3 linked regions of the Homo sapiens genome follow. The protein of the gene in region 2 purifies or fractionates together with the protein of the main gene of each other region. This does not show direct contact. Each region holds a gene or a part of one and is shown on either strand. Other genes may lie near its edges.

What was found. The genes of interacting proteins can lie anywhere in the genome.
Region 1: the proteins of DNASE2B (region 2) and SUCO purify together in Homo sapiens (affinity purification with mass spectrometry; 3 studies listed by BioGRID and IntAct, with this or other methods). This does not show direct contact.
Region 3: the proteins of DNASE2B (region 2) and YTHDF1 purify together in Homo sapiens (affinity purification with mass spectrometry; 3 studies listed by BioGRID and IntAct, with this or other methods). This does not show direct contact.

What each region holds. Positions count from the first base shown.
Region 1 is NC_000001.11:172,606,121-172,612,333, reverse strand, and holds the end of SUCO (SUN domain-containing ossification factor isoform 1 precursor), read right to left. Parts: intron 3,588-6,213; coding exon 3,532-3,587; intron 2,519-3,531; coding exon 2,075-2,518; 3' UTR 501-2,074; downstream 1-500. UniProt on the Homo sapiens protein: Required for bone modeling during late embryogenesis. Regulates type I collagen synthesis in osteoblasts during their postnatal maturation.
Region 2 is NC_000001.11:84,394,597-84,401,509, reverse strand, and holds the start of DNASE2B (deoxyribonuclease-2-beta isoform 1 precursor), read right to left. Parts: upstream 3,027-6,913; 5' UTR 2,946-3,026; coding exon 2,821-2,945; intron 1-2,820. UniProt on the Homo sapiens protein: Hydrolyzes DNA under acidic conditions. Does not require divalent cations for activity. Participates in the degradation of nuclear DNA during lens cell differentiation.
Region 3 is NC_000020.11:63,213,132-63,220,365, reverse strand, and holds the start of YTHDF1 (YTH domain-containing family protein 1), read left to right. Parts: upstream 1-4,234; 5' UTR 4,235-4,473; coding exon 4,474-4,500; intron 4,501-4,764; coding exon 4,765-4,789; intron 4,790-4,806; exon of another isoform or gene 4,807-4,918; intron 4,919-6,422; coding exon 6,423-6,502; intron 6,503-7,234.

The sequences.
Region 1 (6,213 bases), about 88 Mb from region 2:
CCACAACTTTAATGTTTTTAAAAATTCAATTAAAAGAATTGTTTTACTTTGCATCCTTGTTCTTACCAATTCCCTAGTTTCCTTTTATTTCATACTGTTTTAATGCTTTACTTAACATTAGAAGAAATAAAATGAGGTTGATCATCAGGGAACACTAAAAATCCCATTGGATAAATATCTATATAGTTTTTGCTTCTTAATAGGCATAAATCTATTATTTTCACTTAAGTTTTTTTTCTCATGTAGTTATGTGAGAGAGGAAAAAATAAACCTCATGTTACAAAATGTTATGCTGTATTTAGATATGAAAAACTGAAATTCTGATAGCATAGGGAGCAAAATGTTTATGTAAAAGTACCATCATTTTGTAGTTGGCTGAAATGTGATCAATATTGAATGGAATGCTGCTATATTTAACTTTAAAAGTGGCAAAAACTTAAATCTCTGTTCAAAGATTAATAATTTCTGAGTTCTCTTTTAAAAGACAGAAGAGCCAGTAATTAATAAAGACAAGTGTTCAGATTTATTTGGAAATTCACAGTTTCTAATGGCACTACAGCTCCGTAGTTACATATTGAAAATTCTCTTCCCACAACACACAGATCACATAATTTCTCACTGTATCTCTGCTCTCATCTGGACCTCTTTTCAAGGGGCTTCTATAAAATCAGGCCCTCTTGCTCTGAATAGCTAATTGTGCAGACAGGAAAGAAATTTAAATCTTCTAAAACACGCTGTTAACCTAAAGCAGCAACTTAAACAAACAAAAAAGGCGTTAAATAAGTCACATTACAAACAATACCCAAGAAAGGTATTAGGCAAGTTTAAAAACAGTTATCACTACTAAAAGTGCTCAATAAGTTATAACTTAAACATCACAACAATAAATGGTCAATTCTCTCCCTTTCAAAAAGAAACATGTTCCACTTTCATTCATTACTGTACAATCATACTAAGAAATCATTTTATTCAAATACAGTTGCTGCCAATTATTTTTTAAAGACAAAAAAAAAGACAGAGACATCGACATCACATATGTATTACCTCTGCACATTTGTAGCCAATACAAAGCAAACATCAAGGAATAATAATCTCTTTAGACTTAACCAATTAGATTAAGCTTGACAAACTCACTAACTGGATCTGTGCATATGTATGCAGGCAGTGATTATATCATGAGACTTGTACTAATTGGCCAAACCTTCAAATTTTATATTCATACTAATAAAAACAGTGAAAGTTTGGAGGATTAGTGTTTATTGTGTATGTTTAAAATGTAAGCTAAAGAAAACCTTCACAAATGGTTAAGTGTGTTTAAAAGGTGAATTTGTCAAAAATTTGTCTGCATATATCAGTTGTTTGCAAAAAAAGATCCTGTAGGGATTTTTCCTCATTGAGTTAGTAACTAAGTAAGAAGTAATCCAGTCTGAATAAGTGAAAATAACAAGAGCATCACCATCTACCTAACAGAACAGACTTAAAAATTCCATTAAGTGTTCATTTCCAGTGAGTTTGCTAAACAAAGATCCAGTTGGCAAGTTTTTAGGATCTTTAGACTGTCTGATCCACACTCCTGAGCTTCAGGCACAGACCCCCTCAAAGCATTGTAGTGTTTGCAGCTTCAAAAACCTAACAAAGTTATAAAAGAAATCAAATAACAGAAAAAGTTATCCCTCCTCTTCCAGTGGCATTATAAATAGACAAAAGGCACATAAATATGGGAAGGTGCAAGAAATAGGAACAAAGCTAAAGGAAGAGGTTTAGGCTTTCATTCCTATCCCACCTAAGGAACTGGGCTTCCAAATTACTTTTGTCCCAGTAATTAATCTTGTGAAAAAACATCTTTATAAAATGTCTACCATTGTCCTTATAGGAAGTGATCAGCTTTGTAAAACTGTAGCTCATTAACCAAGATTGACACAATCCCATCTACTTTTTAAAAAGGTAGAAACCATAATTTCTGAATGCCTTTCCCATTAATATTTTCTCCCTCCCCCAAACCCTTCAAATACTACAGACTGTTCTTCAAAGAACAACAACAAAAAAGTCTTCTGTATGAAAAGTTCAATTAATTTTAGATATGTCCCGAGACTGCTGTAACACCAAATGTTCCCACGGTGATCTCTTTGTTTCCTTTGATTATGTCATGCAGGCTCGGCAATGATCCCGACTTAGTCTGTATTAGAGTTTTTATCAATTTTCCTTGGTCTTGGACTTTAGATCGTCTTCGTTTTAAAGCCCTCTTCTCAGTTTTTGTCTTTTGAGACTGTCCATTGCACAGACTTGTGCAAGCTGAAATGCCACAAAAATAGGACTCTTCTGACTGTGATGAAGTTTCTGAGCTTCCTTCAGATGGAGGACCTTTATAAGAAGAGTGATAAACTTCTCCCATATTAGAAAAATCTCTCTGGTTCGTAAAGGGCTTTCTTCCTTTTATGTCGCCATTGGCTATGGGGTGCAATGGTTCTTCAGGCTTTATGGTCTCAATTTTTTCAATTTTGTACTTGCAGCGCTTCTTCTACAACACAAGTAAAAGAAAAGTTAGTAATGATACTTCCCATAGTAACCTTATCAAACACCTAGAGAGCTGAGCTAATAGAGAAGTGCCACCTCCTGGTGAAAAGTAAAACAGTATTATAAACAGCACAGAACACATACATTGTTATGTTCTATATAGATACTAGCATCATCTTCCCATTTTGTAAATACTACTGAATCAAAACTCTTTAAATTGCTTACCTGCTACCTATGAATATAGGTTTAGGGAGTGATACTAATATCTGAATACCTACTAACTGCCAGAGAGCATACAGGTTGCTTTCATGTATTATGGCAGCTATTAACCCTGAAAGGTCGGTATTTTATCCTTGATTCTTAAATGAGAAAAGCAAGGTTCAGATGTTTGGTTCTTTGCCCAAGTTACAATGTAGTAAGCAGCCGGGTTGAGAATGAATCTTAGGCTATTTGCCTACAAAGCCCAAGTTCTTTCACCTAGATGAAATTACAACTAAAATTAGTATAACTTAATTTGAAAGGCAAAATGAAAAAGCAAAGACTTTGAAGCCAAAAAATCCTAAGTACATTCTGAGTTGCTGTTTTTTTATTAAAAAAAAAAATGAGGATAACATCATCTTCAGGTTGTGGTGAGGATTAGAGGAACGGTGCATGCTCTGTGCTTGGCATGCATTCGGTAATAAATAATGACAATCATCCAAGGATCAACAAATTTTTTTTGTGAAGGGTCAGACAGTAAATATTTTAGGCTTTGCAGGTCACACATTTTCTCTCTTGCATGCTGTTCTGTTTTATCACTCTTTAAAAATGAGAAAACCTATCTGGCTCATGGCCCATATGGCCTGTGGGTCACAGCTTGCTGACCCCTGTTAATATTTATTTACAACATTATCATGATAGAAAATAAACATTCAGTTAAGGACTACTTAAAGGTAATTACCTTAAACCTTTCAACCTCTTTTCTTCATTTATTATCACAAAACATAGCAATAAACTTAAAAAGAAATAAACAATTACCTTCTTTTCTGGAGAAAACTTGAGGGGTTCTACAATGTACAAATCATTTGGGTCTACTGTAAGTAAAAAAAAAAAAAAGCAGATGTAAAATGTAAAGTGGATTTGGTGGATTTGCTATAATTAAACACTAAAATAAGACAAATCATTCATTCCTTATTATCCTCTAGTAATAGAACCAATGAATTTGTATCAGGTTAACTATATATTTATGCATTTTAAATTAGTAAGCAAAAAGAGGCAAGGTGGAAGATGATATGATTCCTATGCTTGACTGGTCGTCTTCAAATAACTATACTTCCTTAAGTTGTTAACTAGTAGCTGGTTATCAACCAATACAATAACGATCTTTCTTTGGGCCCAGCCTCACTCTTTTACCTGATAAGAAAAGAAACATTCCTGGGTAAGCTCACACCAAACCTACAGATCATTTGAATACTTCCCTAAAAGACTAGCCTCTAAACTGTGTCACAAAGGTAGATTAACAATGTGCAACAAGTAGTCGTGACCGTGTTTGGAAGCCAGTTAGAGAAATAAACACAAAAAGAGATCCAAGATATTTTTCTCTGTTTATTACTATGATCAAAACTATGAAATCCCAATCTAAAAACAGCTTGAACATGCAATATATATCACTAAGCAATAATGAATGAACACTTCTGGCATAGTGAGTAAATTAGATTTATTAGTTTTAGCCCAAAGTTTCTAAGGTTTCATTACTCTAAGCAGCTTCAAGATATATCCCAACCCCACCCCCACACTGACAAAATAGACACACATTTTTAAAAGGCTATGAGACTTTAGTCCTATTCAATCCACTAAAAATAAACAATTTAAGGTCTGACAGAGACAAAAGCTTACACATAGTAAATTCACTACAGAAGCTCTACACATTTGGGAAATTTATTAATACAATTCAACCAATTATAATTTTTTACATTATATTTCAGAGATTTATTGAGAAAGTCATCAAATATATGAAAATATCAAAACATCCCTCTAAACAGTCATTTCTACCAGATTACTAATCTTAATTTACTTTCTTTAATAATGATGTCTATTTCTAGAAACAGTTATGTTATTCAGATCAACCTCTACAATGAAAGCAACTAAGTAATGATAGTTTGTTTTTTTTAAAAAAAATCACTAAAAGCATTGAAAAGCTGCCAAGAAAGTAATCCCTAGGCTAAAACTGAAAGAAAAGTGGGAACCCGGACAGTCAAGTAGAAGACAAAAGTCATTTTTGCCCTGAAAACATTTGCCAACACAAGAATATATGAACTTTGGTTCTGATGGTATCATAAGGGAATGGATCAGAAATCAGGTCCTAGGGCCCACCCAAAGTTTAGTGTAATAAGATACCATCTCCCTGTGTACAGTAAACTGAGACTCCAAAGGACTATATTCTCAGGTAAAGAATGAAGCCATGCATGAACTTGCAGTCCAAATTATCATCACCTGGTGGCCCAACAAACCACAAGTCATGAATGTAAGGTATTACATGAATGTAACACACACACAAATTCCCTCTCAAATAAGAACCTATATTCTAGGCCTCAAATTATCCCTACAAATAACTTTTCAAAGAGAAAAAGTAGCACACAAAGACACAACATACCCTGAGTAAGAGCTTACAAAGACAATGAACAGACTCACAAAAATTTAAGATATTAGATTTATCAAACACAAACTATAAAGATAATTATGCTTAATATGTCTAGAAAATAAGCTTGAAAATATCTGCAGGAAACATATAACAAGGAAAATACAGACCTGGATTTTTAAAAAATACAAAAAGAACTCCTGGAAATGGAAAAAATAACTGAAATTGAAAACCCAATGAATAAATTTGCAACAGTAAGACTGCTGGCCTGGAAACACATCAGAAGATATCATCCAAAATACAGCATAAAAAGTCAAAAAGGTGGAATGTTTACAAGACAGGGAAGATATACGGAGAAGTAATATGTTTAATTAAATATGAGAATCTAAAAGAGACTGGGGCACAGGGAATATCTGGGAGGAAAAAATAATGGTTGAGAATTTCTCAATAACAAGTAAAAGAAACCTACAAATCCAGAGCTCCAAAGAGCCTCACGAATCTCAAAATGATAAAGAAAAAGAAGAGGAGAATATTTCAGTTTTAACTAATGACAAATGAAAGCTCTGAAGAATAAAAACATTAGTAAACGTGGGGTAAATTTAAATGAACATTAAGTGTAAAAAGAAATACCTTGTTGAGTTAAAATTAAGCAGAAAGAATAGAATTAAAATATACAAGAACAGTAACATAAATAAGGCTTGGGACAAATAAGAGTTTTAAGATCTATGTATTGTTAAGGAGAAGATACAAGTATTGATGAACTTGAGACTTTGGCAAACATTAATACTTCTGACTTCTAGGGTAACTAGTAAAAGAACAGAACCAGTACACAACTTCCAACATAATGGCAGTAAAAGGGAATATTTACTTCCTCCCCAATAAAAAATCTTAATGAAAGCATGGAAGGGGAAAAAAAAAAAAAATTAAAAGGGATACCCCTGCCCATCTAATTTTTATAAACCTTACATACCAAAATCCAACATGAGAAAATATTACATGCCAATCTTATTCATATAGATGCAAAATTTCTAAATAATTATCTAACAAAATTATGTAGAAATAATATATACAATACAAAATTC
Region 2 (6,913 bases):
CTTTGAGCCCCTGTCATAAGCTGCATTCCTCAGCTCAGTTTATCCGAATACTCTGCCTTGAAGATTCAGGGCTAAAACCAAGTAATTAAGTAGGCCCTTTCCTTCCTTTACTGTTGTTTTCCATTTGTATATCTCCCTTGGATATCTCACAGGGAGGAGAGGTAGCTCAGCCAAGACAGCATTAAGGCATTATTGGATTACCTAGCTCAGCGTTTCTCAGTGTGCTCTATTCACATTTTCAGCCGATCATTCTTTGTTGTGGGAGCTGTCCTGTGCATTGTAAGATCCCTGCCCTCTACCTATTAGATGCCAGTAGCACTGCCAAGTTGTGACAATCAAAATTATCTCCAGACATTATCAAAAATCCTCTGAGGGCAAAATTACCCTCGGTTGAGAACCACTGATCTAGCCAAATACTTTCTAATAGCATGAACCCCACCATTAACCCCTAAACACTCACAGTGCACCAAACATTATAATATATACACTATTACCATACAACAGTGTCACAAACCCGTAAAAGCTGCACACTCTTCACTTGGTCCCCTTCGGTCTTATACTTAATTTAAGTGAACTCTTTCCTGCCCTGCTTATGCTTTCTTACAGGGTCAGGTCCTCACATGTGGCAGGAAACATGAAATTATTCTTTGGTGCTGACTTGATGGTCTCTTTCCTTACCTTTCTCAATAAATGTTAGCAGCTTGGCAACAAGTTGCTTATATTCTCTCTAACAGACATTGCTAAGTAATATGTCCATTCACTTGTGGCAAAAATGATTTTCCATATCAATCACAATTTGGTGGCCCACCAGTGAAGGGTTTGTGAACTATCAGTGTGCCGTGGCACACCAGTTGAGAGCTAGTACTTTTAAACATTTTTCCTGGGTGACTGTCTCTAATTATGTACTCAAGAGTCCTCAGTCTGTTTCTAGCCCAGACCTTTCTGCTGAGGTCCAGAGAAACCTAAACTCAAAGATGTCCCATTAACCCCCAACTCCGTATTTTTGAAACCAAATTTATAATATTTTGCTCCAAATCTGCTCATCCCACACTATTAGGGAACATATTCATGCAGTCTCAGAAGCAGAAGCCTAAAATTATTTCTTTCTTTTTCTTTCTTGTTTTGTTTTTTGTTTTTTTTTGAGACGGAGTCTCATTCTTGTTATTCAGGCTGGAGTGCAATGGCACGATCTTGGTTCACCACAACCTCCGCCTCCTGGGTTCAAGCAATTCTCCTGCCTCAGCCTCCCATGTAGCTGGGATTACAGGCATGCGTCACCATGCCTGGCTAATTTTGTATTTTTAGTAAAGATGGGGTTTCTCCATGTTGGTCAGGCTGGTCTTGAACTCCTGACCTCAGGTGATCTGTCTGCCTAGGCCTCCTAAAGTGCTGGGCTTACAGGCGTGAGCCACCACGCCTGGCCAACCTAAAATTATTTCTTAACATCTCCCTTTCTCCTACTGGCTGCAGCCCATCCATCACCAAGTCTTCTCAGCATGTCCTTCTTTCTATTTCCATGACCGCTTCTTTAACTCAGGTCTACACCTCTTCTCACCTGTAATGCTGCAAAAGTGCTCCTGGTCTCAGTGATTCTAGGCTGCTCCCCATCCATCCAGCCCTCATAGTACTGCCAATGGGTTTCCTAAAGTGCAAATCTGACCATTCACACCCCTGCGTGAAGTCCTCCAATAGCTCCCTTTCAATGTCAAGTTCAAACCTTGTAGCTCAGCACACAGACCCCTTGGCTGTCCCCACCTCTCTAACCTCACCTCCGGTCATCTTCCTGTATTCTCCTGAAGTTCCAGCAATACCAAACTACTTTGCAACTCCCAAATTTCCATGTTGCTTCTTGCCTCTCTACCTCCTCATTGCTCCTTCATTGGCCTGAGATGCTCTTGCACATCCCTTCTTTTTCCAGCTACTTCTTAATTGTTCTTAAAACTTAGCTCAAAAATTACATCCTTAGAGAAGTTTTCTGGGCTCTCTGTTCCCCAGTGTTCCACCTATGCCCTTACCACATAACTGTGAGGTCCTTGAGGGTAGGAACCATGTTTCGTTCATATTTATATTTTCAAAACTCCACACAGACCTCTGTTGAGCTCAGTAACTGAGGAAAGACTGACTACTGCCTTGAGTATATCTGTGTTCTGTAGCCTGAAGTTTACACAAAAAGCTTGACACCAACCATTATGGCAAACCTAAATATCCCAATTAAAGGGTGAAAAAGTAGTTAAAGCTTTAGGAGAACCCATGACTATAATGCAACACAGCATTTAATGTCTTTGACACTGTACAACAGGCCAGTGGCCTACGTACCAATCATGGCAACAGCTGCCTCTGCTTCCAAACAAACCGATGTTAGGCAAACAGTGCTGTGTGTGACCAGGTCCCCCTTCTCTTTCTCATAAGGAGCAGCACATGCTCCATTTTCAGAAAAAAATAATCTGCCTTCTTTACTCTGTCAGTCTTTCAAAGGATGTTGGAAGTGTTCTGTTAGGAAAAGCCATGATGTAATTAAAAGAAATTGCCAGCTCACAGAAGCTGTCAGCTCAATCCCACTTCTGTGGCTACCAGCCTTGCCCCGCTGAGAACAGTGAATCAGGCCCAAGAGGGGCTGCTCAGCTCTTTTTCAGGGGGAAACTCCGTCACTCAGAAGCCTACCCCTGCCTGGGAGTTTGGCCGATTTGCACACTTTAACTTCCTTTATTTGTAAAGGGAGGAAAGAGAATGGACATTCCCCTTAGGAACTTCGCAGTGAGCCAGGCCAACTCTGTACCGAGGCTGTTTGCATGCAGCAGTCCTTCCATTTCATTTACCTACCAGTCCACAGCTTTCCCTTCTTCATTTCTGCATGAAATTGTTGCTGCCCCCAGCACCCCAAAGAGGCCAAGGAAGAGCAAAGCAAAGGATGTTCTTAGCAGTCTTGCCATCATTTTCTGTTTCATTTATTTCATGCCACAGCAGGACACTTTCCCCATAGATTGTGGAGTCTGAGTTTCAAGGCGCTCTCAGGCTGTGCTGGCTCTGACGTTTGATTTGATTTACCTGTGCTGTTCGCTGTTCGGGGCATTTTCAGAGTGGGATGGATCCCATGTAATTGTGCGATTCTGTCACAACATGCCAGCGTGACTCTGGATGCCTTTGTGCTGAATTGTTGACTGGTTTGCAAAGTCATCAAAAAGTTCTGCAGAAAAATAGGGAAAGATAGTTCACTCTTTGGAGTGAACATTGTTGTATGAAATTCATTGGGCAGGGGGACTTCATTTTAATAAGTAGATGTTAAATATATTTCATGTCTTCTCCTGTTTGACTCAATGAATGAGAGCAAATGCAGGTGGTTCGTACATTAAACAGAAATGATAAAACCTTATGTCTTAGTAATAATTAGGATCTGTCACTTAATAATCTCTGTCTTAAGGAACCAGTTGCTAAGGGATACTTCAAAGGGTTGCTTCAAAGTAACAGTAAATTTAACTGTATTTTACCAAAGATGTTTACATATTCTCTCCATCTTCCTGGTTTTAGCCACTCAATGTGGTGCTTCAGGCTGCTATGCAATAGGTAAACATATTGATCACCCACTCTTCAGGTTAATAAAAAATGTTACAAACATCTATTTTGCCCAAACTATGCTTTCTCATTCTCGAAGCTGAATCTGAAGTAGAAAACCAAAATAAAATGGCCCACTACCATAACAACTATAAAAAGGTGAGACCAATTTCTTTGTGAATCAGGGAAGGAGTAGATAGACATATGAAAATAATTTCTTTAATGCATACTTTTGCATCAATTATTAAAGCTGCCATCATAATAAATAGCAGTTTACATCATGCCTGGAAATAATGCTGCCCCTAATCTGTCTCTCTGATAATCACAATGATAACTATAATAGTTCCAGATCAGAGGATCCAGACCAAACTGAACCCTTGTAAATCAGATTACCTCTGTGGTTGCACTAGAACTGTTCACAATTCTCAGGATTCATAGAAAAGGGGAAGGCTTGTGTCTCTATCCTAAGACAGAGTTTTGGGAGGAGGACTCTGTACCACCTGCCCAATTACCTGTGGTGCCTGCAAAAAAGGCAGAATTCTAGGACTTATTCCAAACCTGCTACATCAGAATTCTTCCAGTTGGGCTCAAGAATCTATATTTTTAATAAGCTTATTGGTGATGCTGGTGTACCCTAAAGTTTGAAACTCACTGCCCTGAGGCCAAGACTATGCTGTATTTGGTAGATTCACAGCTTTCTGCAGGTTAAATGAAGAAATATTTTTCTTACCCATTCCTCCATTGGTATTATTATTATTATTATTTTGAGATGAAGTTTTGCTCTTGTTGCCCAGGCTGGAGTGTACCCACCTCGGCCTGGGAATCCATCCACCTCGGCCTCCCAAAGTGCTGGGATTACAGGCATGAACCACTGTGCCTGTTCTCATTTTGTTTTATATATTTTCTTCCTGTGTTCAGAAAAAAGGATTTCAACAACCCCAACCTTTTTGTCAATTTTTAAAAGTTTTTTTAAAAATTATCAGCTGGACGCAGTGGCTTATGCCTGTAATCCCAAAACTTTGGGAGGCTAAGGCAGGAGGATTGCTTGAGCCTGGGAGTTCAAGACCAGCCGGGGCAACATAGCAAGAATGTATCTCTACAAACAATAAAAAAAAAATTAGTCGGGCATAGTGGCACATGCCTGTAGTCCCAGCTGTTCAGGAGGCTGAGGTGGGAGGATTGCTTGAGCCCAGGAAGTGGAGGCTGCAGTGAGCCATGATGGTACCACTGCACTTTTGCCTGGGTGACAGAGTGAGATTGTCTCAAATATATATATATATGTATGTATGTATGTATGTATGTATACTGAGAGAGAGAGAGAGAGAGAGAGAGAGAGAGAGAGAGAGAGAGAGAGAGATTACTCTTCTCTGTTAAAGTAAACACAGAGTCTTGCTGTGTCGCCCAGGCTGGAGTGCGGTGGTGCAATCTCAGCTCACTGCAACCTCCACCTCCCACGTTCAAGTGGTTCTCCCACCTCAGCCTCCTGGGTAGCTGGGATTACAGGTGCCCACCACCAGGCCCGGCTAATTTTTGTATTTTTAGTAGAGATGGGGTTTCACCTTTGGCCAGGCTGGTCTCAAATTCCTGACCTCAGATGATCTACCCGCCTCAGCTTCCCAAAGTGCTGGGATTACTGGTGTGAGCCACTGCACCAGGCCAAAATAATTTTATTTATTTACTTATTTATTTACCTGTGAGACTTTTTGGTATTACAACTAATAATAGAAACATACCAGTAGGATTCACTGATGCATTTAGAGAATGTAAGCAAATTGTTTTCAGTTATGTAGGGCTAAAGACAGTTTGTTGAGTAGGATTTAAAATCATTCCTTTTTTCTTCTCCTTATTACACTTAGCACAGTGCCTGGTAATAGTAAGTGATTCATAAATGTTAGCTAAGATTATTCTTACTACAACCTGAGCTTTTCCTGTAAGGTGGTTGGGGGACATCTGTATTAGAATGATATTTGCTAAATCCAATTTTATTTCAAGGTCTGGGAAGACACTGTTAGGTTGGTTTCTTTCAGATGTCACTTTCAATAAACTTCCTTATCTCCCATTATTGCTAACCTGATCATGCTGGTTGTCAGTCAACAACCTTTCTTATGCCATCACTACTGTGTCTAATATTGTACCAGACACTGAAGATCTCCAGGGATTTCAACATTACCTAAAACCTAGAGTCCAGTCTGTTTCAGTTTTTACTAAAAACAGTGAAGTAATTTGGAAAAAAACCTATGAATTTGGTGAGTGAGGAAAATGCAAACTGTGCAGAATGTTTTTCATAATATTATCTGCTTTTGAAGCCCAAGAAATATAATGTTATGTAAGTGCCATAGTTCCTTCATAACCTGATTGCCTCTAAAAACAGTAGAAAACGCCTTCATTGTAACTTGGCCAAGTACTATATAGTGTACAAGTAAGAATTCTTTCTAGGTAATGGGCTTTTAATTTCATGATTGAAGTTTTGTAGTCACCCAATTATTCTGGAAAATCTCAGTCTTGAGCTCTTCAAATAGTGCCTTTTCCACATTCTCTTTATTATATCTTTCTAGTACATTTTATGTGTTGTTCATATATTCTAGCTCCTTGTATGTCTGCATTAATCCTTATGATTATTTATTTAGATCTGTCTTCCAGTTCTCTAATTCGCTCTTTGGCAGCATTAATCTGTTACCTAATCTATCTCTTCCAAATAACTAATTCTTTTAAAAAATATTTTCTTGAAAAATCTTACTTTTTATTTGTACATTGACAAACTATACTTACATATATTTTAATTCTTTTTTTGAGTTATGTTTAATGTGTTTCTTAATCCACTTATTAATGCATTTTTACAAGTTCTATTTTTTTTTTTCAAATTCGCTTGGTCTTTCTTATGGTCTTGTTTCTTGCTCGTACACCCAATCTTTTCTTTTATTTCTGTAAAAATATTAAATATATTATTTTATATTTTTGTATCTTATTCAAATACCTGAAGTCTTTGCAGGTCAGACTTTGCTATTTGTTATTTCTGAAGCTCTTTGTTATAATACCTTGCTATTGTATGTACTTTTGATTTTTGGCTATGAGTTCACATTCTGTGAGGATTTTTGAGGGTTGAGATAAAGTTGGGTTTCTCAAGAACCTGGTCTCTACTGGCTTCATCAAAGTTCAGTTGTCCTTTGAGGACTCCTGGGAGTCAGGATGCTGGCTTTATTTATTTATTTCCAATAGCTTTTTGAAGTATTATTTACACACCATAAAATTTATCTGTTAAAGTTCAGCTTATTTTTGTTCAGATTTTTAGAAGACTGTTGATGGATTGAGTAAAATCTAGAAGTTGACATACTGAAGGAAAAAGCTGATGTACTTGTTGTGGGAG
Region 3 (7,234 bases), on a different chromosome or scaffold from region 2:
ACTCCACACACTCGTCAGCGCACTCCACGTCAGCCCACTCCACACACTCCATGCCAGCCCACTCCATGTCAGCCCACTCCACACACTCATCAGCGCACTCCACGTCAGCGCACTCCACACACTCCACGTCAGCACACTCCATGTCAGTGCACTCCCAAGGCACAGGGAGGCAGGAGGAACCAAGAGAGCAGGAGCCAGTTTCATCAAGGACAAAGCAGCCCCGCCAGGGAGTACGGTGGGGAGCGGTTTTGGAAGGAGGCCTGCCGACTGGGGATGAGCCCGGGGTTGAGGTGAGGGAGGAGATGAGGACCTGAGACAGCATTCGTGGAGAGGGCAGCTGCGTGAGTGGCTGGTGTCCATCGAGACAGATGGGTATCTTCACTGAGAGCCCCCAGAGGCCAGCTGCAGGGTGAGCTGTGTCCAGCACTCAGGAGGGGTTTGGTTCAGCCAGGGATCATCTGAATTCAGGGCCCACAGCGTTTGGACCCTGCACCCAGCTCAGAAACCTCCTCTTGGCTGGGGGTTTTGGTACAGCCTCCTTGGGGGCCATCTGGCAACATCAGCACAATGGCCAGTGTAAGCGCCTTTGGCCCAGTGATTCCATGGGCAGGAGCCTCCTGCCAGGTGTCTTCGCACACGTGTGCATGTGTGTTGGGGCCAGGACACTCACTGGATGAGGCTGGAGCCCATGCCCTCCCTGGAGAGGGACGAGGTGGGTGGACGGCGGGTGTTGATACTCAGCAGCACTGTGGATCCCCAAAGTGCGGTTTCCCAACACGTGAGATGCAAGGGCAGATAGTGGAGACAGAGACTCATGCTTGCATGCACAGGCAGGCATCTGGAGGGCTCCCTCTCTGAGGGGTTTGGGGGTGGTGGTTTTTGCTTCCCACCTTATATCCTTTGAGTGCAAAGATAGCTTTTTAACCATGCGCCTGTGTGACTTTCAAATAAATAAAAACCCAAACCTTCCTAATGCTAGTCATGTTTAGACAATCCCATACCACTTGAGGGTGCTGCCAGGAGCGGGTACTGCTAGGAAGGGCTCTTGGATGAGCAACAGGTTCCCCGAGCAAGAAGGTTCCCGTCTGAAGGCAGACGGCCCACAGGGGATGGGCTCTTGTCTGTCATTGACGGCACAGGCTTAGAAATGGCAGGCTTTGTCTCAAGACCGCTGGGCCACCCAGAGGAGTGGCCAAAGCCCTCTGATCCGTTTCCATCCATGACATGAGGAGCTGCCTGCTCCCTGTGAGGGAGAGACAGTTGTCCCCTGACATTCGGTGCTGGGTGACCTCCCTTTTCCTGGCCGAGAGCTGGGCTGGGGTGTGAACCTGGGCAGGCTGGGCAGTGGACGTGGCCCTCCAAGGTTACAGGCAGCTCAACTCCTGGTTTTCTGTGACACCCTCCCAGGTCCTCAGGCCTGGCCAAGATAAAGGCTTTCCCCCCAGAGCTGGCCTGGGGACCTCAGCACCCCCTGCTGGTGCCACACCCCCTGCATTCAATTCACTTTAGGGCCCCCTGTTCCCGCCAACCAGACCTGTCCTGCCCCTGGGCAGCCCCCAGTCTCCTTCCATGTCAGGGTCAGCATGGAGCCTTCTGGAGTTCACAGCAAAAGCCTGGGTGGGTCCGGGCAGTGGCTGTGGGATCCTGCCAGCCTCTTCCCTGGCCAGTGGGGCTAGGCTGGCATGGTGGTGCCTCCTCAGGCCTCACTGTGGGGGCCTCTCCTTCCATCTACATTTGTGAGTAGAACCTACTCAGCCCCAGGAGTCACCCTCCAAAATCTCTCCATAGGCATCACTGTGAGGCCTCCCCAGTGATCTCTGTAGTGAGCTGAAGAGTGTACCCCCAAAACTCATGTCCACCTGGTACCTGCGTGACTTTATTTAGAAATAGGTTCTTTGCAGATATAATCACAAGACGATGAGGTTATCCTGGATTAGGGTGGGCTCTAAATCCAGATGAGTGTCCTTATAAGAAGAGACACAGGCACAGAGGAAAAGGCCATGAGGTGACGGAGGCGAGGAGGAAAGACCAGGAAGGGCTGCGGCCTCCACCGGAGGCTGGAGGAGGCTAGGATCCTCCCCGAGGGCCCTGGAAGGAGCTTCTGTCTCCACTTCAGCCCAGCAATACTGATCTGAGACTTCTGGCCTCCAGAACTGGGAGAGAATAAATTGCCGTTATTTTAAGCCCCCCAGTTCCGGGTACTTTGTTGAGATAGCTCCAGGAAACTGAAACACCTCCAGGGTCCTGCATTGCCGGCACTCAGCCATCTAAGAAGGCCCCTAAGCTCGGAGTGGCCACTTCCCGCAGGGCCAGTGCTGCCTCCTGTGACTGGCTGGGCATTTGTGGGTGAAGGCAGCAGGTAACAGCCAGTGTTGACAGAGCCCTGGCCTGACGCCAAGGGCTGCATACCCAGTTTCTTCCACACACTCATCCTGTGAAAGGGGAGTAATTAACCCACCACGGAGGAGGAAAGTAGGCCTGAGGCTGAAGGCCCTGTAACTGGCTGTGAGGCTCTGAACTCCAGTGGTGACCACTGCACCGTCCTGGCCCAGGGATGGGAGCTGGGTGAGAAGACAGACAGGGGCTCCAAGAGTCCGAGTGTCTACTCTGACCACCCAGACACCCCCTTGCTGCAGTCTTGGCCGCCAAACAGTTCAGTGTCCTGGGAAGCAGGCACTCAGGGCCTGCCCAGGATGCGCAGGCCTTATCACACAGAAGCAGGTGGCAGGGTGCCCCCAGGGACCCCACTGTCCCTACAATCCCCACACATCTTCTCCATGTGGGCCACCATCCTGGAAACGTGCTGTTCATTTTCGGATGTACCCCAAATGCACAGATTTCATCCTGGCCTGAGATGTCTGCCCATGGCCCAAACACATCAAAGTCCCAGGGGATCCAGATTCATCCTCAGGGCACCAGACATCCCCCAGCTCTGTTCCAGGGAAACAAGCCCAGCCCGCTTTCCCCAGCTTTAGGCGAGGCAGGGCTCCAGGGAGACCTGGAGCAACTTGGAGCAGCAGTCCTCTCTGTGGCTGACCGGCCTGCTGGGGGCAGTTTCCACCTCCTCCTGCAGCAGTGTGAGAGGCTGTCTGCTACCCCACTGATGCGGATGTCCAGGCTTGGAGCCGTCTTGGGACTCCATTGCCGTCCCTGCTGTCACTGTTCACCCTGCTTAGCGCATCTGCCCGGGCCCACTTTGTGGAAAACACTCATTTGACGTCAACCTGCCTGACACCCCATTCCAGGTCTTTCTCCTTTAGCAGGACCCAGATCCAGGCCACGTGAAGATGTTACAGCTGCCAGAGCTGGAAAGAAAAATATCAACCTGGAAGCCTCTGTAGGGAGTTAGCCACAAGGGTGGCAGGATTGGATACTGGCTGCAGGGAGCGAAATTCAACACCTTGACCAGAAGGGCGTCCAGGTTGGGGATGCTGAGGGGTTAGGAACTGAGAACTGGGCTCTCTTTGCACAGTTGCTGCTAAGAAGGGGCTGTCCATCCTCGAACAAAGATGACAAGTCCCCTGGCCCGGCCTAGGCTGGGGCACAGAGCACTGCTTTTCCTCCTGGTGATGAAATCGGGGTCAAGAATCTAACATGAGAACTTGGTTATAAGCCGGCGAGCCTCTCGCAGGTCCAGGGGTGCATCCACACAACAGCTGACCTCCGGGACCGGGCCCAGGGCTCCGCTGCGGCTGAAGGCCAGGGCCGCAAAGCGAACAAAGCCCGCAGGTCCCGCGGCAAGGGCCGAGGCGCGCGACCTGGAACACGCGGGGGCTCGGAGCTCTGGGCGGGCAGGTGTTTGCGCGCGGGGGAAGGGCAGACCGACCCCGGACAGACCCGTAGCCCAGCTGTCGGACCAGAACAGCGTTTAGTCTTCGGACCTTGGGGAAAACTACAGAGGCCTCAGTGCCGGTAGCGCGTCGGGGGTGCGGCTGTGGCCGGGGTGTGTGTGGGCGGCTGTACACCTGGCAGCAGCCCGCCAGCCCCTTCCCGCCAGGCCCCGCGGCGCCTCCGGACACGCCCCACGTGACTTCCCCGGCTCAGGGCTTCCCCGCCCAGCCGGCTGCGGTCCCCGCCCCGCCGCACGAGACTGGGACCTGAGAGCGAAATCCATCCCGTAAGACGGGAGCGCGCAGGCGCGAAGTGTGGCGGCCCGGCGCGGCGCTCCCGGCCTGCCCCGCGTGCACGCTGACGCCGCGCAGTCTCGTCCCCTGCCGCCGCCGTCGCCGCTGCTGTCGCCGCCGCCGCCGCCATTGGAGTCGACGCCTCCTCAGTGCGTCCGCGTCCCGGGCTCACCGCCGCTGCCGCCTCGCCAGGGGCCCGCGCGCCCAGCAGCCGCCGCCGCCGCCCGGCCGGCGCCCGGGGAATTGGCGGCGGGGCCCGGGGCCGCGCGAGCTAGGGTGACAGGCCCGGCCTCTAGGGGAGGCCCGAGCCGGCGGGCGCCCCGGCCCCGCGTCTAGTTGTTCATGAAGCATGTCGGCCACCAGCGTGGACACCCAGGTAGCGGGGCCGGGTTACAGGGGCCGCGGCCGGGGCCGAGGCGCGGGGTCTGGGTTGAGGTCCTGGGGCTGGAACGCAGAGCCCGGGGTCGCGGAGGCCGGGCCCAGGCGGGACCGGGGTCTCGGGGCCGGGGTCGCACGTGACCGCGCGTCGGGGCCGGCGGAGCTCGCGGCCCGTTGGAGACCAGTTCTCTGGTGAATAACTTTGTGTTTCCCTCTTCCCCCGGGTTGTGTGTACCCCACGTCCCGGCCTGCGGCGGTGCAGAGAACAAAAGGACAAGATAATAAAGGTGAGCGGAGTCCCGGGACGGCCGGCGCGGGCTGGAGTGGAGGAGGACGGGGAAGGAACGGTCCAGGAAGCTGCGTCTGGAACCGGAAACTTTCTCTCTTCCGCCAGCTTCAGGGAGATAAAACTTGAGGTTGTGCGACGATTCTGGGAGATTTGACAGGTCGAAGACAGGGGCTTCTCAAGAAGTGAATAAATGATTGCTCAGAGTAGTTTGGGCCCGTCTCTCCCCACCGCATGATCATGGATTTGCTTTGGGGAAGGGGAGGTAGGAGAGCCGGGTGGACATGGCCGCAGGGGTTGAGCGACTTGCCTTTTTCCGCCCAGCAGGGGCTGCTCTAGGAGAGGGGCAGTCCAAGGTTCTGCAGGCTAAGCTCCACATCCCCGGTAGTTGCAGCCCGTTTTCCAAGTCTGTTAGCATCTCCTGTGACATTATGGCTTGGGATAAACCCTCAGAGCGCACTCATGTGAAAACTGTTAAGTGACACTTCACGTTTACTTGGAACACTTTTTTAGCCAGTTTGTGTGTCAGCTCAGGTGTAACCAAATACGGTTCATCGTGTTTTAAGATTGGAAAAGGCCCAGCACTTTATTTACCTTTGCTTGCTTTTTCTGGCTGAGCATAATAACAGTGGGAAGGTAAGTGGTGTAAAAGGAAAACCAGTCTTGGGGCACCCAAATCACTGAGCCAAAGGGAGAAAGCTACGCTGAGAACTGCTGAGGGCAAACCTGCCTCCCATTCTATTCCTGAAAAAGATAGCTTCTAAGACAAAAAAAGTTACATACTTCCCCCACAGTTTGCCCACAAGGAAATTCCTGGTGGACAAAGGACAGAACTCAGAGTCATTCCTGCTCACTGAGATAAATGCTTATCTGATTGCTTCCTTTGGAAAGGCTAATCAGAAACTCGAAAGAATGCAGCCGTTTGTCTCTTATCTACCTATGACCTGGAAGCCCCCTCCCTGCTTCAAGTTGTCCCGCCTCTCCGGACCAAACCAATGTACATCTTACATTGATGGTTCTCATGTCTCCCTAAAATGTATAAAACTAAGCTGTCCCCCGACTACCTTGGGCACATGTTGTCAAGACCTCCTGAGGTTGTATCATGGGTGTGTCCTTAACCTTGGCAAAATAAATTTTCTAAATTAACTGAGACCTGTCTCAGATATTTGGGGTTCACTGTGGAGAGTCAGATAATAGCTCCCAACAGTCCTTCAGTTGCAGCCCCTTCCCTCCTAAGTTTTCTTCCCTCCGTTCTCCATACGTTTGGGCATACATTCTGCATTTGGGCTTTTGGAGGCTCCACTTCTTTTTGCCACACATAAGTCTTCTTAGACCATGTCAGTTTTCACCCTGGTTATGTGTTCCTTGCATTATGTGTTAACACTTGATTTGGTTAATCTCACCAAATTACGATTAAGCCTTTATTTAAAATTTATCCTAAATTATTGAAAGTTTCCCGTCCCCCTTCTAATTAGTTGTATAAACATCAGTTCTATACTGGTTGTACTCCTTTTAAAATTAAAGCATAATTTCTGCTAGAAATAGATGGAAATAGACTTTGCTAACTTTGCCTTCCAAGCTTAAAAGTAATCTTTTAAAATTTGAGGGTAATATTTTGCAACTTTTTGTTCTAGTACAAAATGGTTCGTTACATCAGAAGGATACAGTTCATGACAATGACTTTGAGCCCTACCTTACTGGACAGTCAAATCAGGTGAGTTTATTTTGTTAGCATATATTTGTTTTTAAGTTGGTTTTAATTGTTTTGTACCTTTACTGTCATTTCTGATTTTTAAATTATCCTAAACAACAAAGCAGCAGACTATAAAGTATTAGGAATGATAGACTGCTCATGAAGATGTGACTCCTGTTAACCTTGGGCATCAGTGGGGTGAAAATGATTTTCCCTGTGGAGGAGGCGGCATCCCACTGGGGCTGGGATGCAAACAGGTCTAGTTGGCTCTAGTGTTTGTGGGTCAGTGGTGTGTCTTGCCTTTGACGCAGTGGAGGTGTGTGTGTGTTTCTGAAGCTTCCTGGTTATTCTTAGCTCTGGATGATTGGAATTGTGGTCTGGGGAGGCAGCTAAGAGCTGGGCTGTGGAGCGACTGTGGAGCCAGAGGCCGCCTGGGTTTCAGTCCTTTTTTTGAGACAGCGTCTCACTCTTGCCACCCAGGCTGGAGCGCAATGGCGTGATCTCAGCCTGCTGCAGCCTCTGCCTCCCGGGTTCAAGCATTCCTCCTGCCTCAGCCTCGGGAGTAGCTGGAATTGCAGGCACCCACTACCACGTCTAGCTAATTTTTGTATTTTTAGTAGAGACGGGGTTTCACCATGTTGGCCAGGCTGGTCTCAAACTCCTGACCTCAGGTGATCCACCCGCCTCGGCCTCCCAGAGTGCTGGGATTATAGGCGTGAGGCACCGCGCCCAGCCTGGTTTCAATTTTAACTC